3 separate regions of the Homo sapiens genome follow, and all the other regions are linked to region 1. Evidence: fine-mapped expression QTL. A gene starts in region 1. Each other region holds a variant in brackets. All regions are shown on one strand. Distances are from middle to middle. Region 1 holds the start of TMC6 (transmembrane channel like 6). Region 2 holds the start of LACAT1 (lung adenocarcinoma-associated transcript 1). Region 3 overlaps TNRC6C (trinucleotide repeat containing adaptor 6C).

Region 1 (5,417 bases):
CACGGCCTCAGTCTCCCCATCTGTCAAATGGGGTGAAAGATCCAAAGGGCACAGAAAGTCTGGACCGGCACAGGCAAAGAAAGCCAAGACCTGCTGCACCCCGCATCCACCTGTGCCTGGGCCCACCGTCACCCCAAGGAGAGACAATTCCCTCTCTTCTCCACGTGGCAGTTTGCCCTTCCGGAAGAGCCTGTGTCCCAAACCCCACAGTTCCTGGGACTCGGCATCTGCCACATCTGACTCTGGATGTCGGGGGACCCCCTTCTGTCTTCCTTCTTGTGGTCCAGCCTCCAGTCCCAGGTACCCCGCGAGCCCCTGATGAGGACCTGTGGCTACAGCCCCAGCCGTGGGGACAGGAGCAGGGACCCACTGCTACCCTTGCAGGGCTCTAGCTGGCCCCCACAGCCCCTCACCCTCTGCATTCTCCCTCCACTGGACATCCAGCTCACCTGGGGACCTAGGGACCAAGTCCCTGGAGGAGTCCCCTTCTCAGACGACTCCTGCCAAGCCAGGCAGGGTGGTGAGGGAGCCCAGAGGAGGGGTCATATGACAGGAAACCCAGCTTCCCTCTCCACTACCTCCCTCCTCCCCTCTCACCCCATGGTTTCCTCTGCTTTAAACTGAGGCCAAGCAGGCACTTCCTGTGGGCCCCTGAGATGCAGAGGTGAAGGTGACAGGCGTAGGCCACTTGGCCTCCCAGGGAGCTCTGTGCATGCTGGGCTGCGGGTGGCCCACCCTTCCCCTCTGCACAGGAGTCAGGGCCTGGTCTCCTGCAGCCCTAGGGTCCACTGGTCCGGGTCTGCCGCCTGGCTGCCTCCAGGGATGTCCAGCCTGCAGCTGAGGCCCTCTCTGTTCAACTCCTTCCAGCCTGGATAGGCAGGACTTGACCTCGAGGCCTGAGCTGGGAGCCTGACATGGGTGGGGATGGGAACGGTGGGGGCACAGGGGCCAAACTCTTTATCTGCCGGCCTCACCCTGGAGGGTGTGATAATGACAGGATGGTGGGCTCCCCAGAACCTGGCTGCTGGGTTTCCAGATACTCTTGGTGTTACTGCTGTACTTCCAGCCCCTGTCATTGGCGTTATGGTTGTGCCAAGACCCAGGCCTAGCACCTGGCCGGTAGTAAGTGCTCAGGAATTGGCTCCATTCATGCTCTCCCAGGCTAGATGTTTAAGACATATCTTTGCCAATTCTCTGTCCTTGGGCCCCTGGGAAGCCCGCAGCCCTTCCTCTCTGCTCCCTCTCTACCTGCTATAGGGCCCAGTCATCTCAGGTCTGAATGTTCATAGCTTTTCTGCCTCTCTGCCCACCTCCTTCCTGGTTTCCAGAGTCCTTTCTGTGTGTCAGGCGCAAGCTATGTGCTGGTGCTGGGCACACAGTGGGCTGGGGTAGGAGGGGGCACAGAACCACAGATGTACATGTCAATAGGAAGTGGTAGGTGCTCCACCAGGGTTCAATCTGGGGAGGCTCCCCAGAGGAGGTGGCATTCATGCAAATTCAGTGTGGGTATGCAGGGAGGGGGAAGCAGTGGGAGGAGAGGCAGGGGCTGGGTCTCCATGCCAGGGTGCCACTTGCCAAGAACCAGCTTGGGGTAGCCATCTGAGGACCACACTGGCAGCTCCAAAAGGCCCCAGCCTTGACCCCTGCCTGGTCCTCGCTTTTGCTTGCCTGCTCTCCCCTGCAGCAGTGCCCTCTCCTGCCCTCCTGGGCCCCAGCTCACATTCACCCTGCCTGCTTCATGGCTTCTCCCCGCCAGGAATGACCCTCCCTTCCAAATGGGCTTGGGGTGGGGGGTACAATCTCAAAGGCAGTTTCCTCCATAGAGTTCCCAGGTGGACCACTAAGTCTCCTGCTTTGGCTGGGGGCACCCTAAAGGGTGATTAACTTCTCTCAGCCTCAGTTTCCTCATCTGTGAAATGGGAATATCAGTGCATACCTTCCTGGCTCATGGGGAATAACAGAAAACAGGGCAACGGGTACAGCACCTGGGGACAGTCACCTAAGTGTCAGCGTGTCCTCCTTTTCATCCCCTCCTCTCCACACAGCACACAGGAAGTGAGCCAGAACTCTTGCTAGATAAACAATGAACCCCGCCCAGGTGTCAGGAGTGGGAGATAACCAGGCTCCCCCCGCCGGGGTCGGGGAGAGTCAGCAGGAGGCTTGCGGGGGCGGCGGGGGGGGGGGCGCTGCCCAATCTGGAGTGAGATACTCTGTGTCCCTGGGGCTTTCGGCGGCATCTTACTTGGACGATCCCTAACCATGGGAAGCAGATGAGTCTGGAAATATTGCCCCTTTTTGGAACTTGGGGAAACTGAGCGTCAGAAAAATTGGGGACTTCAACCAGGGGCTGGAATGAATCCAGCCCAGCTCAGACCTCAGGAGGAGGGGTCGGAAGTTGGCAGGGGAGGAAGGCATAGTCGCCGCGGGGCGCCCGGAGGAGGGCGGGGGCGCCGCGGGCCGGGCCGGGTCACGTGATAGCCGAGGCCCGCCCCCCCCCCCCCCGCCCACGTGGGCCGGGAGGTGCGGCTACTCCCCCGGCCCCGGCAGACCTGCGACTGGCCCAGTCGCCCCTGGGGCCCTTTGCCACTCCCTTGGCAAGGAGAGCCGAGACCTCAGTTCCCGGCGGCTCTTGCGGGGCACAGGTGAGCCCTGGCTGCGCGCGCGGCCCCTCCTCCCCGGCGCCTCCCAGGTGAGCGGCCGCGATCCCGGTCCCGGGTCCCGCCAGCCCCAGCTGCTTCTCCTATGCGGGGACAGCGGCAATCCCCCCTGAATTCCTTTCGGCCTCTGGGGCCATTTGGCAGCCGAGTTCCCTCCCCGGGTGCTCCTGGAGCTCCCAGGGCTTGACCCTCCGGCTCGGACAGAGCTGGGAGCGGCAGGGGCGGGGAGGACAGTGCGGGGAGCAAAATCCGCAGCCCCCACCCAGGTCCCCCAGCCGAGCGCCAGGGCACGGGGAGGGGAGGGGAGGGGGTGTGGCCGGGATGGGAAGGGGCGGGGGACAGGGAGGCCGGCTGGACGGGTTCGGTGGCCCCAGAGTTGCAGCCGCTCTGGGCTCTGGGGCCAGGTTGCGGTTCTCCCTGGGTAGCGGCTGCTCCCGGGAAGCTCGCTGCCGGCTGGGGTGGGGGTTCCTGGAAACGGGCGCCACCCAGCCTCTCCCCACCTAGCTCAGGAATGGTGCGCCTGGAAACTCCGCTGGACTTGCCTGGGCCTCGGGGCGGAGTGCTGGGGCGCTGGGTGCCCGAGTCCCCGGGTTCCCTGAGCTTAGAAGGGCCTGTCTGGAGGAAGGGATTCCAGCTCTAGGGACTGGGTGGGGCGTCCTCAGCCCCTCTTTCGGCAGCTGTCCCGTGTTAGGCTGGGTGGGGCCGCCTCGGACCCAGCTCTGGGCTGGTTTTCCCACGTCTTTGCTCCTGCTGGAGGGAGGGGGTGGTGTGGGGCCTGGGCCCGAAGATGGCACCCAGGACACTGAGGGAGGGCGCCGTCCGGTCCTGTGACTGGCACCCCTGCAAGGAGCTGCTCTGTCGGGGCGCCCCCGGGCTTTGCCTGTCCGAGGAAAGCGCCCTTCAACCCGGCCGACTTTGAGCCCTGAGTTCCTGAGGGTGAGCGCAGGAGGAGTCCAGGGCAGAGGCCGGCAGGACTCGCTGGTGGCTGGGAGCTGAGTCCTGGCTCCACTCTCACAGATGAACGGGCCCCGAGCCCAGGGCCCCAGACAAGGCTGCTCTGGTTCCAGTTGTGCCGGGTGACGGCAGAGCCAGGACAAAGGAGGCCTGTTGAGGTCCTGGCCACCCCCAGCCGGCCGCCCTGGGATGATGGAATGCAGGGCAGTGGGTCTTCTGAGAACATGAGGACCTTGGCGCCCTGACGGCGGTGGCATGGAGTGACCTCTGTGTGTGGGGGAGGAGCCCCCTGTGCTGCTTCCGCCTGGGGCTGGTTGGGGGTGAGGGCTCCAGCAGCTAATTTCCTGCTAGAGGAAGTTCTTTGAGGTCACAGGGCAGACGCAGAGAAGGCCTACAGCCTACTCTGACCTTTCTCTCCAAAAAGGAGGTGTCTCTGTGCCAGAACCCTGGGCATGGAGATCCTGAAAGGGGCTGTGTCTACAGGCACCCTACCTCTTCCCCATTTCCCAGGGACTGGCGACATCGAGGAAACAGATGTGGAACTGCAGACCCCACACCCTTCCTTCCTCTCTCCCCTCCCCTGACACTGGAGGGGGCCCCCCATTCCATTCTGGCATGAGGCTTATTCGGTGCCTCACCATTTATGTACCTGGGGTGATAGGGGGGTGGGCGGGACTGTCTGGGCTGTGAGTGGCACCTCCTGTGGTTCCCCCAGGAATGGGTGGTGTGGACAGCTGCCAGGCGTTGAAGACCACCCCTGGCTCTGTGCCCCTGTCTCATCAGATGGGGGCTCCGGAGGTGGCGCCCAGGCTCTGAGCTACCCTAGGTCTGCAGACTAGCGGGCATTGGCCAGAGACATGGCCCAGCCACTGGCCTTCATCCTCGATGTCCCTGAGACCCCAGGGGACCAGGGGTAAGCGCTCTGGGGCTGGGGGCTGGAGGCTGGAATGTTCCACCCCCCACGGAGAGGTCACCTGAGCAGGGGCTGCTGGAAGGAGAGAGGTGGCTGGAGCCTGACCCCCCCGCCAACCCCCTCTGCAGCCAGGGCCCCAGCCCCTATGATGAAAGCGAAGTGCACGACTCCTTCCAGCAGCTCATCCAGGAGCAGAGCCAGTGCACGGCCCAGGAGGGGCTGGAGCTGCAGCAGAGAGAGCGGGAGGTGACAGGTGAGCTCAGGCCTGGATGCTGGGTGGTGTGGACCAAGACTTGGGTGCCCCAGCCCCTCAGGACGGGCCTCCCAGCTCTGCAGGCCTGGGATGGGGTGGGAGATACTGTGGCCAATGGCATCTCCAGGACCCCTGGTGAGTCTTTCTTGCTTTGTAGGAAGTAGCCAGCAGACACTCTGGCGGCCCGAGGGCACCCAGAGCACGGCCACACTCCGCATCCTGGCCAGCATGCCCAGCCGCACCATTGGTGAGTGGGACCCTCAGCCTCGGCCTCGGCCCCGGCCCCGAGTTGACCCCAGTCCCTGGGGCTGGGCTGGGCTTCCTGCCAGGCATCTCCCTGGGTAGTGGCTGCTCCCGTAGCTCAGAGCCAGGCCCAGGGCGGGCTCCTAGCCCATCCCATCTGCTGCCTGGGGGCCCAGCACAGCCCCATGTGGCCCTCGCTGGGCTCCAAAAATGACTCCAGAGTCATCACGGGGTAAAAATAGGCTTTCGGAATGCAGTGGTGCCTGAAGTCTTTGTTGAAAGGATTTTCCTGGGTCCTGGGAAGGGGTGAGGGACGCAGAGGCCTGTGGTGAGCCCATCCTGAGGGGAGGGAGGCCTGGCCCTGCCCGGCCCGGCCCTGCCCAGCTGCCTCCATAGG
Region 2 (7,043 bases), 880 kb after region 1:
TACAGGAGGAAATAGAGTAGGATGGGGAAGAACTGGCCTCTGAGGTCCCTCTTTCTTCCCACCCTATCCCCCAAAAGTTGCCTTCCTGGACCCCCCTGCCCCCGTGTCCCCCACATAGGTGTTTACACGCTGATCAGTGGTGGAGATTCCAGGCAACAAGGAGCTGGGAGGCTGAACAGGTACTGGAAGCCAGTGGCCAATGCCCCTGGAACAGAGCCCTGTGGCCGAGCTGCGAGCTCTGTTAGGTCTCCAGCTTATGGCTCCCATGAAGGGCCTTGCCCTCCTGCCAGGGGCAGTATAACAATCTACCCAAATGCCCATGGACCCCTCTGGAGGCTTGTAAAGCCCCAAACTCCTGTTTGCTGCGAACTTACCAGGCTCGGCCACAGGGGCAGGGAGAACGTCCGGCCGGAGCGCAGGGAAGGAAGGTTGGGTCTCTGGAGTCCGCGGGGGTGGGGGGCTCCCTCCCAGGTCTCGCCCTTCAGCTTTTCTGTTTCCCACTTCAGGGCCACACGTCCGTCGTTCCGAACCTCCAATCACATTGGTAACCAACATCATGGGTTCCCAGTGGCCCCGTTGTGGGGTCTTTTCCTCCTGGGGTCTCTGCTGGGGCTTCTCCCTCTCCTCGCTTCCGGCCATCCCCTTCGCTGGGGAGCAGTTGGCTGCTTTTCCGCAGCCAGTGCCTTTCGCGGGTCCAGTTGATCCTATGAGATGCACCATGGAGGGGTAAATGCAGCCTGGGCTCCTCCAGAAGCCAGGGTGCCCACTGCTGCGTGGAGATGCTACCAAGCGTTCAAGTTGTGCGGGTTGTGGAAGAAGCTGGTGAGCCCTGGAGTCAGGCCTGGAACTCAGAACCGAGCGTGAGTCAATCCCTCTGCTTTTCACCGGGAAAAATCTTCCTGGCTCGAGGTCCTGGGTTCATCACTTTCTTCAAACAAACACTCAATCAAACACTTAGAGACTTCCGGTCTGGGTAAGATGGCCTAAACCCGACCCTCCCTGTTCCTGTCTGCTAAGCCCTGGAAAGAATGTAAGAGGCAACCCTAAGAGGGCCCTGAGGTGGAAGGAGCAGGAGAGCTGGTAAAGGACCCCAAGGCTGGGTCAGGAATATTTATCAACAGGGCATTATGACACCCCTCACCCCCACCCAATACAGGACCCGCCCAGGCGTGCATTTCCCAACTCCCGACCTAGCAACAGAAGGCAGCCAAGTAGGCTCCTTTCTCTCCTAGATTAAAGGCAAGTCGCCCCAACACACTAGGCAAGGCTGGGCCCGATTGCTCACAGCTGTAATCCCAGCGCTTCAAGACAGGAGGATCTCTTGAGACCAGGGATTTGATACCAGCCTGGGTAACCCAGCAGACCCTGTCTCTACAAAGAAAACTTAAAAATTAGCCGGGCATAGTGGCAGCTGCGTACAGTCCCAGCTACTCAGGAGGCTGAGGTGGGAGGATCACTTGAGCCCAGGAGATCAAGGCTGCAGTGAGTTATGATCGCACCACTGTACTCCAGCGTGGGCAACAGAGTAAGACCTGTAAAAAAAAAAAAAAAAAAAGCTGGGCACAGTGGCTCACACCTGTGATCCCAGCACTTTGGGAGGCTGAGGCGGGTGGATCACCCGAAGTCAGGAGTTTGAGACCAGCCTGGCCAACATGGTGAAACCCCGCCTCTACTAAAAATACAAAAATTAGCCGGGCGTGGTGGTGGGTGCCTGTGGTCCCAGCTACTCAGGAGGCTGAGGCAGGAGAATCGCTTGAACCTGGGAGGCAGAGGTTGCAATGAGCCAAGGTTGCGCCATTGCACTCCAGGCTGGGCGACAAACTCAAAAAAAAAAAAAAAAAAATGAACAACAAAAAACCCACCAAGCAAGCCAGGCAGAACCACCAAAGGGGTTGGCCCAGCACCCTCCTGCTAATTATTGGCCAGGGTTAACCCTTTCCTCCTCACTGGACCTGAAATTCCACTCCCCCACCCAAAATCATGGCACAGCAGAGAGAGGGGGAGACGTTGATGGCAGGGAGAAAGCCCACCACAAGCAGAAGGCCTGTCTGTCCCTGTGAGCGGGAGACTCCCTTCTCCCACCTGGAGGCAATGAATGTCCAGCCTGGGAAAGCTCCTTCTGCCTCCTTAAGCAGCACCACACAAGCCGAGCTGACCTCTATAGCACGGCAGAGGCTCTGCAAATCAGATTTTCATTGGAACCACAGCCCCCAAAAGTAGCCCAAGACCTGGGTGCTAAACCTAAGCAGGGCCGCTGCTACCAAAGTAAAAAATGCAAACAGGACCTGAAGTCTCCTCACCTAATAGCCACAATGTCCAGGATATGGTGAAATTCACTCATCCCACCAAGAACTACGAAAATCACAATGTGAGTGGGAAGACCGTCAACTGAACCCTGAGATGAATCAGACGTTGGAGTTACGTGCCCAGGATTTTACTCTTTTTTTTTTTTTTTTGGAGACAGTCTTACTCTGTCACACAGGCTGGAGTGCAGTGGTGCGATCTCAGCTCACTGCAACCTCTGCTTCCTGAGTTCAAGCGATTCTCCTGCCTCAGCCTCCTGAGTAGCTGGGATTACAGGCATGTGCCATCATACCCGGCTAATTTTTGTATTTTTAATAAAGACAGGCTTTCACTATGTTAGCCAGGCTGGCCTCGAACTGCTGACCTCAAGTGATCCACCCTCCTCGGCCTCCCAAAGTGCTGGAATTACAGGCATGAGCCACTGCGCCCAGCCATGTGACCAGGATTTTAAAGCAACCATCAAAAAAAACACATAAAAATAAAAAATTCAACAAGCAATTGCAAATTCTCTTGAAACAAATGAAAATATAGAAATTCTCAGCAAAGAAATAGTGGGTATTTAGAAAGAACCAAATGGAAATTACAGAACTGAAAAATGTCATTGCAGAAATTTTAAAAACTCCCTGATGGGCTCAGTTGTAGAGTGGAAATGACAGACGACAGAATCAGTGAATCTGGGGACAGATCAATCCAAAGTACCCAGTCTGAACCACAGGGAGAAAATAGACGGATAAGAAATAAACAGAACGTCCACATCCAATGGGACCATAACAAACAAATCTGACACTCACATCATAGGGGCTAAGGAGGAGAAGAGAGTGAGGCTGAAGGAGTATTTGAAGAAATAATGGCTGAAAACTTTCCAAATCTGGTAAAAGACATAAGCTTACAGATTCAGGAAACTGAACTTCAAACAGAAGAAGCCAAAGAAATCTACACTGAGATATCATCATTAAACTTCTGAAAACTAAAGACAAAAAA[T/AT]CTCCTCAGAACAGCCAGAGAAACAACACATTACCTATAGGGACACCAGTTCAAATTATCTCATCTGAAACTACGGAGGCCAGAAGTGATGTGGATGACTTGAGGTCAGGAGTTTGAGACCAGCCTGGCCAACATGGTGAAACCCCGACTCTACTAAAGTTACAAAAAATAGCCGGGTGTGGTGGCACATGCCTGTAGTCCCAACTACTTGGGAGGCTGAAGCACGAGAATTGCTTGAGCCTAGGGATTGTGGGGCCAAGACTGCTGATGGGGGGTGGGGTTGAGCTGTGATGGTGCCACTGCACTTCAGCCTGGGTGACAGAGTGAGACTCTGTTTCAAAAAAAAAAAAAAAAAATCAGTAACAGAAAGACTACAGGAAAATCTCTAAACACTTGGAAATTGAACAGTACACCTCTAAATATCCACGTCAATGAGGAAGTCTCAAAGAAAATTAAGAAATCTATAAAACTGAATGAGAATTAAAGGACAGCATACCAAAATATGTGGGATGCATCTGAGGCAATGCTGAGAAAGAAATTTTCTTATTTTTATTTTTTATTATTTTTTTGAGACAGAGTCTTGCTCTGTTGCCCAGGCTGGAGTGTAGTGGTGTGATCACAGCCCACTGCAGCCTCGACTCCTCAGGCTCAAGCAATCCTCCCACCTCAGCCTCCTGATGAACTGGGACTACAGGAACATGCCCCCCACACCTAGCTTGCTTTTTTTCTTTTTTTGCTAGAAACAGGGTTTTGAGGTTGCTCAGTCTTGAACTCCTGGCCTCAAGTGATCTTCCCGCTTCAGCCTCCTAAAGTACTGGGATTACCTGTGTGAACCACTGTGCCCAGCCGAGAGGGATACTTATAGCACTAAATACTTACATTAAGAATAAAGATATCTCTAGTTTCAGCTACTTGAGAGGCTGAGGCAGTAGGATCGCTTGAGACCAGTCATTTGAGGTTGCCGTATGCTGTGCTGGCACCTGTAAGTAGCCACCATACTCCAGCCGGAGCAATGTGGTGAGGCCCTGACTCTAAAAATAATAAATAAATAAATATAAATTAAAAGAGAGCAGTCTCGTCTGGGCGTGGTGGCTCACGCCTGTAATTCCAGCACTTTGGAAGGCTGAGGCGGGTGGATCACGTGAGGTCAGGAGTTTGAGACCAGCCTGACCAACATGGTGAAACCCCATCTCTACTAAAAATACAAAAATTAGCTGGGTGTGGTGGCGGGCGCCTGTAATCCCAGCTACTTGGGAGGCTGAGGCAGGAGAATCACTTGAACCCGGGAGGTGGAGGTTGCAGTGAGCCAGGATTGCGCCGCTGCACTCCAGCCTGGGTGACAGAGTCAGGTCCATCTCAAAAAAGAAAAAAAAAATTAGGCAGGCGTGGTGGTGCATGCCTGTAATCCCAGCTACTTGGGGGGCTGAGGCAGAAGAATCGCTTGAACCTGGGAGGCAGAGGTTGCAGTGAGCCGAGATCCGTACCATTGCACTCCAGCCTGCGGGATAAGAGCGAAACTCTGTCTCAAAAAAAAAAAAAAAGAGAGAGACAGAAGTCTCAAATTAACCATTTATTGAGGTGGGTTCTGTGCTTGGTGCTGAGATGATAATTGTGAAGGCCCAGTCTCTTCCAAAGGGGCTTACAGCTTGAATGGGCACAGAAACAAGGAAAGGAGGAATTCACACACAGTGTGGTCAGGGGTGTAATTCACACACAGTGTGGTCAGGGGTGTAATTCATACACAGTGTGGTCAGGGGTGTAATTCACACACAGTGTGGTCAGGGGTGTAATTCACACACAGTGTGGTCAGGGGTGTAATTCACACACAGTGTGGTCAGGGGTGTTGGTTGAGGGTAGCCTAGGGCTAGGGTGTTGGCTTAGCCAGGTCAATACAGGCAGATGGCATCAAATCCAGGCTTGGGGAGCAAAGAAGTCTTCTCAGAGGAGAAGCTGCACCCTGATAGGTGAGGTGGGCCCCCCAAAATGGGGAGAGGGCTGTCTGGGCTCAGAAAGCTGGGACACGCAAAGGCGCTGAGGGGAAGAGGACATGGCCCATCAGGGCACTGTCAGTGTGGCCAGACAGAGCAGGCAAGGCGGGGGAGACCCTGGGAGACAGAGCCAGACCCAGAACGAGGGGCCCCTTCCCAGACTCTGAAGGAGTTTGGGCTTGATCCTAAGACAATTCAGAGCCAATGAAGAGTTTCAAGATGACAAGGTCTCATCTGTGTTTTGGGAAGACCCTTCCAACTGTTGGAGGAGGGCTGCTCCTAGATGCAGGGGGGCCAGGAGGGAGGGACCCAGTGGGCCATTTGGGAGAGGTGGACGCTGGACAGGGCAGGGGCGGCAGGCAGAGAAGAGGAGTCCACAGCTCCTGGGCGAAGATCGCCAGGATTTGAAGATGAGATCTGGAAACGACGGCCCGGGGACATCCAAGCTGAGCCTGGGCCAGTGGGTAAATAAGCGGTCATTCACTGAGTAGGGAACATGAAGGAACAGATGGAGATGCTTTGTGTTGCCTTTGGTGGGGACAGAGCAAAAATACAATGATGGCATTTCCATCTGGGAGATGGCGCATCAGGGGCCAGGAGGCACGTCTTAGCCGGGACATGGAGGTGACCTAATTGACATGTGGCTGTGGCTGCAATCGGGGATTTGGGAGAAACGCCACTGAGATGAATCAGAGGAGAAGGGCCAGAGACCAGGTCCTGGACGTGGGGATGTCCACATTTAAGGGGAAAACAGAAAAAGAAGGGTTGGGGAGAAGTCAAAGAGCCGGGAAGAAATCCAGGCGAGAACTGCACTCGTAACCAAGGGACAGAAGGTTTAGAGAGTGACATGCCAGGGAGAGCTGCAGCTCGCTGGGTTGGCAGAAGGGGCAGATGGTGAGTAGGGGGAGGTCATGGAGGAGGGATGAGGTGGAGGGGCAGGGAGTTCACGAGAGAGAGGAGGTGGACCTGGGAGAGGAGACAACTCCTTGGTTTTAGAGCAAAGAACCTTGAGTTAACATATTTACGCCAGGAGAGAGAATGTCTAGGCTTGAAGGGGGAGGTGAGGGCTGATGGCACAAGGCTTCCAGCAGAGGATGGACAGCTCGGCCTGGAATAGAGAGTGAGACACAGTTTCCACGGAGGTGGAGAAGGGGACACAGTCCCTCGTCTGTGATTAGATGCCAACGGAATCCAGGCACAAGGGAAAGAGGGGCAGCACCTGCCCTCTGGAGGCTTCCAGTCTAGCGGAAGCTGATGGGTGGGAGGCAGGTGCAGAAAGATGGGGATCAGGCCTGGGAAGCAGTGCAGGAGCCAGGAACACCCAGCCCTCTTCCTGTCCCTGGGGTGCCCAGCACCAGGGAGCATGAGTGGTGACCAGAGGTGCAGGTGGGTCCCCCCTGGTTAGTGGGAGAGTGGGGGAGGGCAGATGGAGTGGGGAGTCTTGAGTGACAAGCCAGCGCCCCTGGCACCCATCTCTGAGCATGGCAGACATGGTCCTGCCTCCACGGTGCTCCAGGTCCAGCTCAGCATCTTCCTTGGAGGGGCACCCCAGAGGGGCCCCCAGCCACATCCTGTAAAATATGGGCTTCTGATGACTCTCTGACCTGGCTCTTCCTCCATAGCTCTCAGCCCCCTTGGAAATCAATTTTAAAATGTGCACTTAAAGGTTTGGTTCACTACAAAGGGCAGGTGAACAAGACAGACACAAATGATCCTTGGGAGCCCACGTCAAGGGGTAGGAGGCAGACAAGTGAACAGACTGTGATGATC
Region 3 (7,043 bases), 59 kb after region 1:
CTCAGAGTGTCATTATTACCTTCCCTCAAAACATAACGGGAAAATATGAGAAAAGCCAACATGCTTCAAATATGGCATTGGCGATTCACCTCCAAAGTCCGCTAATCCCAAGAGGCTCCCTCTGTGGTTCCAGCTTGTTGTGTGGTTGCCCCTTCACTGTGGCCTGGTCCTGTCTACCCAGGACATATTAACCATTAAACCATGACTACAATCAAATGCTTCTGGAAAGTAAAACTTCACAGCTGGGTACCTTTTTAAAAAGGATGTTGTATGACTTACTCATGGCCTGATCAAGATTCATATTGTTACTCTTCAAGGCCTCCTCAGCTGGCTCTCTCTGTGTAGGAAAACAGAGTTTTCATTAGTGCACATTAATTAACAAAAGGAAAGGTTACAAACAATTTAATCACTATCAACTTAAAGACATAGTTATTAGGTTTTGGAACTGGAAATACATTTCTTCACTGTTGAGGTTAGAGACAATGTCTTTTGAATTAAAAATACTTGTAATAAGAAAATGTACTGACTTGATTTTCAAAGTAAAGCCCTTGTATTTAACACTTTGGAAACAAAATGCAGAGTGGCAGTAAAACCTTGTAAGTACTCCTAAAATCATTTTCATTTTTTTAAAATGTAACTATTAGTATTATTTTTGTAGAGATATGTTCTCTCCATGTTGCCCTGGCTGGTCTCAAACTCCTGGGCTCAAGTGGTTCTCCTGCCTTGGGCTCCCAAAGTGTTGGGATTACAGGTGTGAGCCACTGTGTCTGGTCCTAAAATCATTCTGTACAACACTGAGTAGCAATGATTCCATAAAGGTGCAATCTATGCCAAGACAGCAGGGCCACAGACAAGGACACCTGCCATGAGGACAGGATGCTCTCCTAGGACAGGATTCCTGTCCCAGTGAGGCCCATCTCCATGTCTCTCTCTAGTCCCAGCAACTATGTCAGTCACTGTCGGAGTGCAGAGCTGCATTTTTCGCTTCATCAACTCTAGGCTCCACCATCAACAACTTTTCTCTAAGAAACAGAAAAACAAAACAAGTAGATTCATTTTGATAATTTATGACTGGAACACAGTAATCTCAGGGGATGACTGAAGCCGCTAGGGTGCCATGATAACTGAGACAGTATAAATCAGGACACGCTGAAGCCACCGTCAACCTCTTGCCCACTCACACAGGCAGAGCCTGGGCCACCAACACAATGCCCTGCCCAATACAGAGGGCCTGTGCCCAGTGTGAAGGATGGGGTTCCTCCGCTACATGGAGGCCATTCTGGACTCATTCTTTTAGAAGCATCTACGGTAACTGAAAGATAAACACTAATTTGAATAAGGATTTTGAAAGAAGTCCCATGAAGCGAATACATGGCGAATATGGGCGACATCCCTTGCCATCTGAACTGCCATCCAATCTCAGGAATTGAACAGACTGTGGTATTTTCAGGGGAACGCCCTACAATTATGAATTCTCCCTACGTATGACTGGAAACTTAGGAACTAAGTAGGTCTGGTTAGGATACTTTTTCTGGATATGAAACCTTAGTACTTTACATCAAGTTTTCTTTTGTGATCTCTGTCAATATACTCTATACACTAATGAAATTCACGTTTAATTATAAATTAAAAGTAAACATAAAACTGTATAAACCAATGAAAATTAAAAATCACACAGCATTTTCCGGCTGGGCGTAGTGACTCATGCCTGTAATCCCAGCACTTTGGGAGGCCGAGGCGGGCAGATCGCTTGAGCCCAGGTGTTCGAGACCAGCCTGGCCAACACAGTGAAGCCTCGTCTCTACCAAAAATACAAAAATTAGCCGAGCATGGTGGCTCACGCCTGTAGTCCCAGCTCTACTCGGGAGGCCGAGACAGGAGGACTGCTTGATCACACCACTGCACTGCAGCCTAGGTGCCAGAGCAAGACCCTGTCTCCAAAAAAAAAAAGCATTTTCTATTCTAGGAAAAGGCTCTCACACCCTTTTTGATAGAAATTGTGTGGGTCTTTGCTGTAGTTCAAAGCAATGATCTCTAACCCAAACTACCCAGGTAAAAGGGAGATTTAAGAGTTAGATGATGTCAATATCTCATTCCTCAAACAATCTTGGTGTCTTCTGACACACATAACAAACATGGAGAGGAAACAATGAGGGCATTTCATTTTGGGAAGCATGGTGGGTAGCAGTAAACTACGACGCCAGTTACCGGGAAGCCCATGTCTGTGAGTTGTTTGATCAGCCGGCTCATGATCCAGGCCTCATCCTGCTTGCCAGACGTCTTCATGCCCTTGAACAAAGTGTGGGAAAGGGGGAAGTCCATGAGCTACATTTTAATGCATTTCTACCAGAAATGGGAGACAGCCTAAATTCAGGGTCATTTAAAAGTCACAGGATCTTTTTGTATTAACATTGAATAATGCTGTATTCCAGAAACTCCCTAACAGTATTTCGTGGCTACTGCTACGGAAAGCATCAAGGTACATTTGCAGGTTGGTATATATGTGCAATTTATGAACTTAAAGCAAGATAATTATTTCTCTTTCCCAGATAATTAATTTAGTTTATCACAAATATAGACTACTTTTACTATCCAATAATCCTAAGCGCTCCCTTGAACACAGCCCTATGTGAAGTTTACTAAAAATTACACTTTTTGCCTTTTCTAAGCTTTATTCTGAAAAATGATAAAATGAGGGGGTTTATTCCAATGAGTAAAGAGGCAGCAAGAAGAAAGGATGAAACAACCTGTTAATTTTATTAACTATTTGTTACTTATAGCTCATAGGGTAGAGAAAAGGAATAAGGAGGAAAATGTCAGTGAAGGAGAGGATGAGGAAAAAGGTCAGCTACAGAAAGAGCAGTGGGGGTGGGGGAGGGC[T/A]CGGCACCACAGAAGAGCCAGGAGGCTTCTCAATAACTTCCCTCTGAGCCTATAAATGCAAAGGTTCTAATGATGCATTATTACAATATGAAAAAAATTCCCTTCCAAAAATATTCTTCATAGTGTTTTTCACAATTGAGCCTGCCACAGCTATATCATGGAGCATATGGAGCTCTATAAACAGGCTTTCTTTCCTCAAGGAACTAGCTTATTTTGGGGCTATTTCAATCATTACTATGCTGCCAGAGCCAGATTAGTCAAGATTTTAATTTACCAATTTGCTATTTTTGGTCCCATCATTAACTGGATTATTTGCCAGCCCAACTGTAAAAAGGATTCTTTTTGATGTCTGTAATCACTTCTACTCCTCATGAGCGGAGAGCTCTGATTTTAGTTTCTGGTTTCTGCTGATTATTAACTGAATGCTTTTATAAACTATATTTTTTTGAACATGAATACATTCACACGATTCAAAAGTATAAACAAGGTATAAAGAAAGTTTTCATCTCATGCCACCCCATTTGCTTAGTTCCTGTTCTCTCGAAGAGGCACTACTCATAGCAGTTTCTTATTTGCCCTTCCAGAGAATTTAGAACATTCTGTAGAAGCTGATACACTACGTGTGCATGCATGCATACACACACTCACATACACACACACACGTTTTCTTCCTCCTACCCCACAAAATAGGGTGTGTGCTGTACATGTTTTTCTGCACCTTGCTTTTAATTTAACAATGTACTTTAGTGATCTTTTCATATCAATACATAGATAGAATTTCCTTTTAGTTCTGTATAATGTAGAAGTGACATAATTAACTTGTTACTCCATCAATGTACACATAAATTATTGTTATCTTTTTACTACAAAAATGCTGCAATACAAAACTGTATAAATGCCACAAAGTGAGACTCTGTCTCTACAGAAAAAATAAAAAATAAAATTAGTTGGGCAGAGTGGCATGCACCTGTAGACCCAGCTACTCAGGAGGCTGAGGCAGGAGGACAATTCGAGCCCAGGAGTTCAAGGTTGTACTCCAGCCCCTAAGGTGACACAGCAAGACTCTGTCTCTAAAAAAATTTTTTTAAATAAAAAAATCAAAACGCTGGCTTTCTGTGGGTCTGAGAGATGAAAAATGGCAGGTGTCTCTGAGTGCTGTCTGGAACTGCACTGCCTTCCTGTGAGTCCGTGTCTAGGAGCCACTGGTGCTCCTTCTCTGTGGACCAGCTACTCTTCACATTCTGTGCTCCTTTTTCTACTGGGTTTCTGGCTGATTTTTTTTTTAAATCAGTTTCTAGGACTTTATGTATCAGGGGATTGGCCCTCTCTATGATATGAGTTATAAACATATTTTTCCAGTTTGCTATTTTTCTTTTGACTTTGATTATGGTATTTTCTGTCATGTACAGTTTTTACATTTATCTATTGACACAAAAAAATTTTATTTTATGGCTTTTAGATTTTGGTCATAGTTAGGCCTCTCTGAGTCCAAAATTGTTTTTAATGTTCTTTCATGTTTTCATATTTTTAATATTTAAGTTTGTGACCTACTTGAAATTCAGTCATGCTGAATGTGGACTGAATTGGGCAGTCATCTAGAAAAAAATGAGATACACGTCTCATGTAGCTCATGTATATATGAGATGTGTATCTCAGTGTTTTCTAGATGACCGCACATTTGTGTCTTTTTTTTTGAGAGGGAGTCTCGCTCTGTCGCCCAGGCTGGAGTGCAGTGAGGCGATCTTGGCTCACTGCAACTGCAACCTCCGCCTCCCAGGTTTAAGCAATTCTCTTGCCTCAGCCTCCCGAGTAGCTGGGATTACAGGCACCCACCACCACGCCCAGCTAGTTTTTGTATTTTTAGTAGAGATGGGGTTTCACCATGTTGGCCAGGCTGGACTTGAACTCCTGACCTCAAGTGATCCACCCACTTTGGCCTCCCAAAGTGCCGGGATTACAGGTGTGAGCCACTGTGCCCTGCCTGCCCATCTGTTTTAAGACTTCTTAACCATCTGTCTCAAACTTTTTGGTCTCAGGACCCTATAATACTCTCTTAGAGACTGAAGATCCCAAAGAACTTCTGTTGACATGAGTTGTGTCTATTGCTATTTACTGTATTAGAAATTAAAACTGAGAAAATTTAAAAATATAATTTTGCTTAAAAATAATAGTCACTACACATTAACCTAACATTTTAAAATAAAAAGTAATTAATTTTTCATGAGAAGGGTGGCACTGTTTTGCCTTTTGGCAAATCTCTATGTCTGGCTTAAGAGAAATGGCTGGATTTTCATGCCTGTTTCTGCACATTCTCTGCTACAATAAAGTTCTCTGGACACCTCTACCCTATACCGGAGAGAGACTTCAAATGAAAAAGACAGTCTTAGTACTGGCATGATAATAGTTGTGACCTTGCTTACTCCCCTGAAAGGGTCTCTGGGACCTCCAAGGGTCCTAAGACTACTTTGAGAACCTCAGGTCTATCTTTTTGTCTGATTAACTGGATACTGAATGTGTCTGAAGTACCTTTGGTTTTCAGGGTGTACCGTCGTTAAGAGTGTTGTACTTACCTTTTGAAGTCCTTTTTTGGGGGCGTTCCCCCAGGAGCTGCAGGAGGAGGTGCTTTCTTGGGAAGCAGCATTATTCCACACGTCCCCTTCTTCATCCTCCCACTGGCTGGTACTGAGGTTCATTTCATCCCCACCACTGCCCCAGCCTTCTTGCATAGATTTTGAAGCTAGAAACAGAGCAAACATGAACTTATCAAATTCATGTCCCTAACGCAGACAATGCTTCCACTGTAACATATAATTTAGGGGTCGTGGGACAAATGATGCATTGTAATCTACCTTTTTATGCCTTCATTTCTCCCAGATCTCAGAATTGAATTTCTCTTGCTACATATGTAAATAAACATGTATATGTATATAATTTTTCCTTCAAACATCAGCTATTTGTACTCTGTGCTGTTCTAAACTTCCTTAACCAACTACACATCATTCTGAAACATAAACATGCTAAGAACAAATCCTGGGGCCACCAGGGAAGGTGGCAATCTCTACATGGTATGAAAAGGCTACAGAAATGTAGATTCCTAAAACATTTCATTGTCCTGTGTGGTTTTTAAAATTTGTAGGTTTTTTTCTTTTTTTTGAAACAGGGTCTTGCTCTGTTGCCCGGATTATAGTAGTGCAATCACAGCTCACTGCAACCTCAAACTCCTGGGCTCAAGTGATCCTCCTGCCTCAGCCTCTCAAGTAGCTAGGACTACAGGCATGTGCCACCACATCCAGCTAATTTTTTTTTTCTTTTTAATAGAGATGGGGTCTCACTATGTTGCCCAGGCTGGTCTCAAACTCTTGGGCTCAAGTAGTCCTCCTGCCTCGGCATCCCAAAGTGTTGGGATTACAGTCATGAGCCATCACAAGTGGCAGGAAAATTTGTATATGGGATGCTTCATAAATCTGTATCTCATCCTTGCATAGGAACCACGCGAATCTTCTCTGTATTGTTCCAATTTTAGTACATGTGCTGCTGAAATGAGCATCTCTGTCTGATTCTTAATCACTGCTTGATCCAAACCTATGAGCATTAAGTCACACAGACCAGAGCTTCTCAAACCTGTCCACTCGTGACAGTCAGCTGGATCATGTGAAGTCTGGCAGGCCTGAGGTTGGGCCCGACAGGCTGCATTTCTAACAAGCCCGCAGGAGATGCTTACAGACTAGCAGGATGGAGGCCTTAGGCAGATGGAGCTACAAAGTGACTATCGAGTTTCCACTTCAGATATTGTTTTTTCCTCCTATCTTAAAATACAAAGTGATTTTCGGTATCAAAATTACCCCAAATTTTCACTTCTTGGAAGAATATGAAGAAGGGCAAAGACTAGGTAAGAGCACAGTTAGCTGGGTCTTCAATGAAGATACAAGGCTGATAAACATATGGAATAGGCACATAACTGTGCCTCCAAGGACAAATTCTCAAAATAGAATGCTCAAAATGGCGCATGAATCTAAATACTCACAAGTTCCCTTATCCTTTAGGTTTGTAAAAAAAAGTAATATAAATGGAATACTTTGAGCAGAGTGGTGGCTATATGGAACATACTATCGAGTATTAGCAAAACAAAAAACAAAAAAAACCAAAAAAAACCACAAAGTACA

Evidence for each region. PIP is the estimated chance that this variant, and not a neighbour inherited with it, causes the effect.
Region 2: its variant is fine-mapped to the expression of TMC6 in left ventricle (GTEx, PIP 0.99).
Region 3: its variant is fine-mapped to the expression of TMC6 in whole blood (INTERVAL, PIP above 0.99).

What each region holds. Positions count from the first base shown.
Region 1 is chr17:78,125,884-78,131,300 of GRCh38, reverse strand. TMC6 (transmembrane channel like 6) reads left to right here and starts at 2,546. Exons shown (of 20, transcript NM_001127198.5): 1 at 2,546-2,689; 2 at 4,395-4,524; 3 at 4,653-4,777; 4 at 4,935-5,024; 5 at 5,417. The coding sequence starts at 4,469. TMC8 (transmembrane channel like 8) reads right to left here and starts at 530. Exons shown (of 16, transcript NM_152468.5): 1 at 450-530; 2 at 1-20. RefSeq lists enhancers at 323-452, 3,663-3,912 and silencers at 2,453-2,982, 4,253-4,332, 4,383-4,432.
Region 2 is chr17:77,247,853-77,254,895 of GRCh38, reverse strand. LACAT1 (lung adenocarcinoma-associated transcript 1) reads right to left here and starts at 1,082. Exons shown (of 3, transcript NR_188630.1): 1 at 375-1,082. RefSeq lists enhancers at 1-770, 6,871-7,043. The variant T/AT (reference allele first, on the strand shown) is at 3,286.
Region 3 is chr17:78,066,331-78,073,373 of GRCh38, reverse strand. TNRC6C (trinucleotide repeat containing adaptor 6C) reads right to left here. Exons shown (of 23, transcript NM_001142640.2): 7 at 5,451-5,617; 8 at 2,209-2,289; 9 at 280-337. It also overlaps the pseudogene UBE2V2P2 and the pseudogene RNU6-625P. Among named protein-coding and RNA genes, the nearest start is that of TMC6, 59 kb to the left of the region's middle. The variant T/A (reference allele first, on the strand shown) is at 2,881.